2 linked regions of the Homo sapiens genome follow. The protein of the gene in region 1 interacts with the protein of each later gene in a pairwise test. Each region holds a gene or a part of one and is shown on either strand. Other genes may lie near its edges.

Region 1 (3,500 bases):
AGGCTGGAGTACAGTGGTACAATCTTAGCTCACTGCAACTTCCACCTCCTGGGTTCAGGCAATTCTCCCACCTCAGCCTCCTGAGTAACTGGGACTACATACGCCCGCCCGCCACCAAGCTTAGCTAATTTTTGTATTTTTTGGTAGAGATGGGGTTTCACCATGTTGTGCAGGCTGGTCTTGAACTGTTGACCTGAAGTGATCCACCTGCCTCAGCCTCCCAGAGTGCTGGGATTACAGACATGAGCCACTGTGCCCAACCTTGGTAGTTCTGAGTTCTTTAAAAAATCTCCAAACTGCTTCCCACAATGGCTAACCTTATCTACATTCCCACCATCAGTGAACACGAATTCCCTTTTCTCTGTAGCCTTGCCAGCAACTGTTTTTTTTATTTTAATAGGCATTCTGAGGAGTATGAGGTGGTATCTCATTGTAGTTTGGATTTGCATTTCTCTGATGATTAGTGATGTTGAGGATTTTTTTCATGTTTGTTGGCTGCTTGTATATCTTCTTTTGAGAAATGTCTGTTCATATTTTTTGGCCCACTTTTTATGAGTTTTTTTTTTCTTATTGAATTGTTAAAATTCCCTGTAGATCCTGGATATTAGACCTTTGTCCAACACATAGTTTGTGAATATTTTCTCCCATTCTATAGGTTGTCCATTTGTTGGGTTGATAGTTTCTTTTACTGTGCAGAAGCTCTTTAGTTTAATTAGGTCCTACTTGTCAGTTTTTGTTTTTGTTGCAATTGCTTTTGAGGACTTTGTCATAAATTCTCTCCCAAGGCCAGTGTCCAGAAAAGTATTTCCTAGGTTTTTTTCTAGGATTCTTATAGTTTGAGGTCTTACTTTAAATCTTTAATCCATCTTGAGTTAATTTTTATGTATGGTGAAAGGTAGGGGTCCAGTTTCATTCTTCAGCATATGGCTAGCCAACTTTCCCAGCACCCTTTACTGAATAGAGGGATCTTTCCCCATTTTGTCAAAGATGAGGTGCTGTAGGTCTGCAGCTTTATTTCTGGGTTCTCTTTTCTGTTCCATTGGTGTATGTGTCTGTTTTTGTACCAGTAACATGCTGTTTTGGTTACTGTAGCCTTATAGTATAGTTTGAAATCCAGTGGTAATGTGATGCCTCCAATTTTGTTCTTTCTGCTTAGGATTGCTTTGGCTATTTAGGCTTTTTTTTTGTTCCATGCATATTTTAGAATATTTTTCTAGTTCTGTGAAAAATGATGTTGGTAGTTTGATAGAAATAGCATTAAATCTGTAGATTGCTTTGGGCAATATGGTCATTTGAACGATATTGAGTCTTCCAATCCACGAGCATATAATGTTTTTCCATTTGTTTGTGTCATCTGTGATTTCCTCCAGCAGTGTTTTATAGTTCTCCTTGTAGAGATCTTTTACTTGGTAAAAATATATCTAACCAAGATGTATGGATGTAAAAATACCTGGTAGAAATACATCTTAGTTAGATGTATTTCTAGGTATTTTATTTTTTGTGTGGACATGGTAAATGGGATTGCATTCATGATTTGGCTCTCAGCTTGAACGTTACTGGCGTATAGAAATGCTGCTGACTTTTGTACATTAATTTTATATTCTGAGGCTTTATTGAAGTTCTTTATCAGTTCCAGGCGCCTTTGGTGGAACTTTTTTTATTTTTTTGAGATGGAGTTTTCTTGTTTGTTGCCTAGGCTGGAGTGCACTGGCACGAGCTCAGCTCACTGCAACCTCTGCCTCCCGGGTTCAAGAGATTCTCCTGCCTCAGCCTCCCGAGTAGCTGGGATTACAGGTGCCTGCCACCGTGCCTAGCTAATTTTTGTATTTTTAGTAGAGATGGGGTTTCACCATGTTGGCCAGGCTGGTCTCAAACTCCTGACCTCAGGTGATCCACCCTGTCTTGGCCTCCCAAAGCGCTGGGATTACAGGCGTGAGCCACCGCACCTGGCCTGGTGGAATCTTTAGGGTTCTGTAGGTATAGAAGCATATCATCTGTGAAGAGAGATAGTTTGACTTCTTTTCTTATTTGGGTGCATTTTATTTCTTTTCCTTTCCTGATTGCTCTGGCTGGGACTACCAGTACTATGTTGAATAGGAGTGGTTAGAGTGAGCATCCTTGTCTTTTTCTAATTTCAAGGTGAATGCCTCTAGCTTTTGCCCTTTCAGCATGATGTTAGTTGTGGATTTATCATAGATGGCTCTTGTTATTTTGGGGATATTGTTTTGATGCCTAGTTTGTTGAGGGCTTTTATCATGAAGAGATGCTGGATTTTATTGAATGCTTTTTCATGTCTATTGAGACAGTCATATGGTTTTTATTTTTAACACTATTTCATGATTGTTTTGAATTGTATTACTTTTTATTTTTCGATTTTATTTTAGTTTTAAAGATGAAGTCTTGCCATGTTGCTCAGGCTGGCCATGAGCTTCTGGGCTCAAGTGATTCTTCCACCTTCACCTCTTAGCCAGTGTGCCTGGCTGAATTGTATTTCATTATGCTTATTGGCCTATTTATTTTCCTTTACATTATTCATGTCTTTTGTTGTTCTGTTGGTGTGTTCAAATTTTGTTTTACTGGTTTATCTTACATTGATTCTTTGTATATTTATTATTATACCAAATTTTTTTTTCTGACTTATACTTGTTCCAATTTTCTCCAAGATTGTTTTTGTTTTTGCTGATAAGAATCAGTGTTTGGGTTTTTTTTAAATAAACTTTTGAAATTAAAGTTTAACATCCATATAGTAAAATTAACAAATAAAGTGAACATACTTATTTAACCAATTTATCCTACTGTACTAGTACCCCAGAAGCCTTTGTCATGACCCTCTAAGTCACTAATCTCCCTCTGAAAGGTGACTACTTTCTGTCTTCTATAAATTAGTTGTGTCCATATGTAAACTTTATATAAAGGAAATCATATATATGGTGTGTATTCATTTTTGTGTGGCTTCTTTCTCTTAACATTACGCCTGTTAGATTCATCCATGTGGTTGAGTGTGGCAGTAGTTCATTCTTTTTCATTGCTTTATAATATTCTGTTATACAACTGTGCCATGATTTATCCATTTTACTGTTGTTGGATATATGGATTATTTCTGTTTGGGGACCATTGAGGCCATTCTTGTACGTGTGATTTGGTATACATACGTAAACATTTCTGTTGGATATATACGAGTGGAATTGCTAAGTCATGGAGTGTGCATATGGTCGGCTTTAGTAGATCCTGCCATCCTGCCAAACAGTCCCTTAAAGTGGTTGTAACAGTTTACACTCATCAACAAAGTGAAGAGACATAAGAGTTTGTTTTGGTTGCCCACATCCTCTCCAATACTTGGTATTGTCAGTTTTTGTAGTTCTAGCCATTTGTGTGGATGTGAGGACGTATTTCATTTTGGTTTTAAATTTCATATCACGGATGATTAATGATGTTGAATATGCCAATAATTTTTTAATCCAGTCTGACAGACTTTGTCTTTTATCTGAACTGTTTTGGTT
Region 2 (3,500 bases), on another chromosome or scaffold:
AGCCATAGAAAGATTGGACCTGCCTGGCAGAGTTGGTAACTGGGCTTTTGTTATGATTCTGTTCCTCAGTAAGTGTAAACAATCTGCAGACATCATGTTCTCATTACATAAGCAAATCCCGTTAAGACCCAAGATAGAAACCGAACCTTTGATGAGCAAACCACTCTCCAGTGTAGGTGTCATTATTGATGTAGTAGTATACGCCATGGCCGTGCCGCAGGTCATTTGCCCACTCTCCTGAAAGGAACAACACAAAGGCAAGCCCAGGTGAGAAGAAGGGATCGATGCCCTGTACCATGTCTTCAAATTGTTAACCATGGCAAAGGCAGATGTGTTGTGAAGCAAATGAAGCCCATGCACACACAGGCCCCTTCTGCTCAGGAAATCCTGCAGAAGAGAGATTTTTAACAGCACCGACCAAGGCTGCTATCTGTTTCCACTCTGACATCCCTCCACCCCTTCCTTTTGTGCCAGATGGCATAGGTGCTGAGCCACGGTGGACAGTGGGCTAAGAGAGGGCTGAGTCAGGAGTTCACGGGGTACAGAGTGAGGTGTATGGATGTGGGCCACAGCCACCTGCATGTACTGACAAGCACATTTCACAGGTTAGTCAGAGGCACCACGAAGATGCAACGAGGAGGGAGACAAACCAAGGTTGTCTGACCCATTGCCAGTGATCCTAACACCACACTTCATTTACCTTGCAAATGTTTAGAGATCCAGCAACAACTCCAGGGCTTGACCATCTATCCTCAGCCACCTGGCAGCATTTCAGTCTATCTCCCACCCAATCATCTGACTCCAACATGCCACTCTAACCCCAGCTGCACACCAGCTCCATCCGCTGGTGCCATGCCTCTGTTTGAACTCTTCCCTCACCTCCTCACCTCCATACGGCTTCTGCTAAGTCCTTATAGGCTTGGTAGGCAGTACTGAAATTGGCAAGGATATCATAAAATTCATAATACCACTCCATGATGTGGACAACTGCAAACTACTTTTGTCAACCACAGTATGAATCCCTGCACTAGAAAACTCAAAACGTCCTCAAATCTTACAGCTCACTTAGGAAAGAAACTTAATAGAGGTCTCCCAAAGGTGACTGCTCTTAAAAACGTGCATATTACACCAAGTCATTAAGCTAAATGATATGTTTTGAGACTATGAATAATAAAAAGCAAATGTTGATCAATTTGTTGATCAAAGAGAAAAGAAGGAATTATATTTCTATTCTCTCTATAGAAAACATTACAAAATGGTTGCCATATGGAGAAGCATTCAAAGAGTATTAGCTAACAAAGGTAGAGAAAAGCTATTCTAGAAGTATGTCAGACATTAAAACTCAGGCTACTTAGATTCTGTGATGTTTGTGGTATTTTTAAATTTTTAACTTATTTTGATTTATCATTGCAAATGAAAATTCACTTTTATACCAACTTTATATTTTCTTTTTTTTAAAGAGGTTCTCAAAACTTACATAAGCTTCTGGCTTACACAAAAACTGGACCCACTTCCACATGAAGATAAAGAATACCCAATAGGCTAAGAAAATGCTAATTATTCAAGTAATATTTGTTTATGTGAATAACCCCAAAATTTATCTGCAGAAGGAACTTCTACATATTTATTTCCTCAATCATCCCATTATTTACTCAGCACCTACAATGTCCTGGGCACTTTGTGAGATGAACGAAGAGCTGTACAAAGGACAGTGCATGTCCCCAGGGCGCGAGCACCAGCCTGAGGATGGAAGGTTGGCACCTGAGCAGCAGCTGAGGACAGGGAAGGCAGCACGAAAAGCTGCATGGCACAATTTCAAAAAGTGGGTAAGTCATTCAGAAAAGAGCAGGCTTACCAAAAATTCATGGAGAGAGGGAAGGTGGCAACTGCTAACAATTAAGGAAGAGGACTAGGTCCCATGATGTGATGTGTGACAGGAACAATGTGAACAAGAGAGATGAAGATCCCCAAATTGAGATAATTCAGTAAAAAATACTTCAGGTCCCTGAACCTAAATTAACCATGAGGATGTGCAAATACCTAGAGGGATTTGTCTGGGTCTTAAGGGGCAGTGATGTGCCTGGATTTGTAACATTTGCCAGGTTCTGTGGTGTAAATACTCACACCGCGGCCAATTTCAAGCTACACATGGAGCTGGGAAGAGATGCACAGAATGGGTTTTTGTGAGCTACTATGAGGGGGTTCCAGCACAGCCCTGGGGCATAGAGACCTCAGCTGAAACAGGTACATCATTTGGTTTCTTCCCAACAAAACTTCATGACAAAATTATTACATCCCTCCTCTCTTGGCCATGTCAGAGGATCTCCAGGGTGTCATGGTGAGAAAAATATATTACATATTTTGCAGAAAAATTTCAAAAATAAAAGAGAACAGTTAAGTTGCAAAAGACACTAAATTTTGCACCAAGAGGACGGTGAGCAAAATTTTTTAAAGTCCCAATCTACTTAAAAAACCTGTTAAGAGGCTCGGCCCAGCATTTTGTAATGCCACCACAGGGACCCTGCACAAATAGAGAAGGTAATTCAGAGAAAAGTCACCTGCTGAGGCACATCTCTAACAGCTATAAGTCAAGTTTCCTTTTTTGAGGTGAGTGACATTTGTAAACTTTATTATTGTGGCTTTAAATTTGCACTTAATTTTTTTTTTAAAGTCTTTCTACCCCAATCCTATACTTTCTGATCATTCTTGAACTTGTCAACTGAGGTTTTTTCCAACTATATTTCTTCTCAGGAGTAACTCCCAGTTGGTTGGTTGGTTGGTTGGTTGGTTGATTTGTTGGTTAACTGGTTGGTTGGTTGGTTGGCTGGTTGGCTGGTTGGTTAGTTGGCTAACCGATTGGTTGGTTGGTTGGTTGGCTGGCTGGTTGGTTGGTTAACTGGTTGGCTGGGTGGTTGGCTAGTCAGTTGGCTGGTTGGTTGATTGGTTGGCTGTTTGGTTGGCTGGTTCGTTGGTTGTTTGGTTGGTTGGCTAGTCAGTTGACTGGTTTGTTGATTGGTTAGCTGTTTGGTTGGCTGGTTGGCTGGTTGGTTGGTTGGTTGGTTGGTTGGCTGGTTGGCTAATTGGTTGGTTGGTTAGACAGTTGGTTGGTTAATTGGTTGGTTGATTGGTTGCTTGGTTGGCTAGTCAGTTGGCTGGTTGGTTGATTGGTTGGCTGTTTGATTGGCTGGTTGTGGGTCAGTTGGCTGGTGTGGAGCAGGTGCTCCTTGGGTAGAGCAGTTTGTCTGGCACTTGGGATTGAAGACAATTTAAAATGAGAAGCTCTCCAAGATGCTCCTCCCCCCTCAAATGCTGGTTGGTCACTGGTTTGCCATGCTGGCCCATGGTCTTGCCAAGTTGGCTCCCTAAACTGCTGGGTCAGCCAAACACAGGAGAGAAGGAGCCCACACTTATGGGGAAACACTCGGTGTCAGACCCTGGGCAGGGTTCCGTGCACTTGCCACAGCATTTGGTATGTGTAATCGCTGAAATATGGTTTTACA

What was found. Proteins that work in one complex are often made in the same cells at the same time.
Region 2: the proteins of BTBD1 (region 1) and RSPH1 interact in a two-hybrid assay, tested with the Homo sapiens proteins (one large-scale study listed by BioGRID and IntAct).

The regions. Positions count from the first base shown.
Region 1 is NC_000015.10:83,036,253-83,039,752, reverse strand, and holds part of BTBD1 (BTB/POZ domain-containing protein 1), read left to right. Parts: intron 1-3,500.
Region 2 is NC_000021.9:42,486,225-42,489,724, forward strand, and holds part of RSPH1 (radial spoke head 1 homolog), read right to left. Parts: intron 238-3,500; coding exon 147-237; intron 1-146.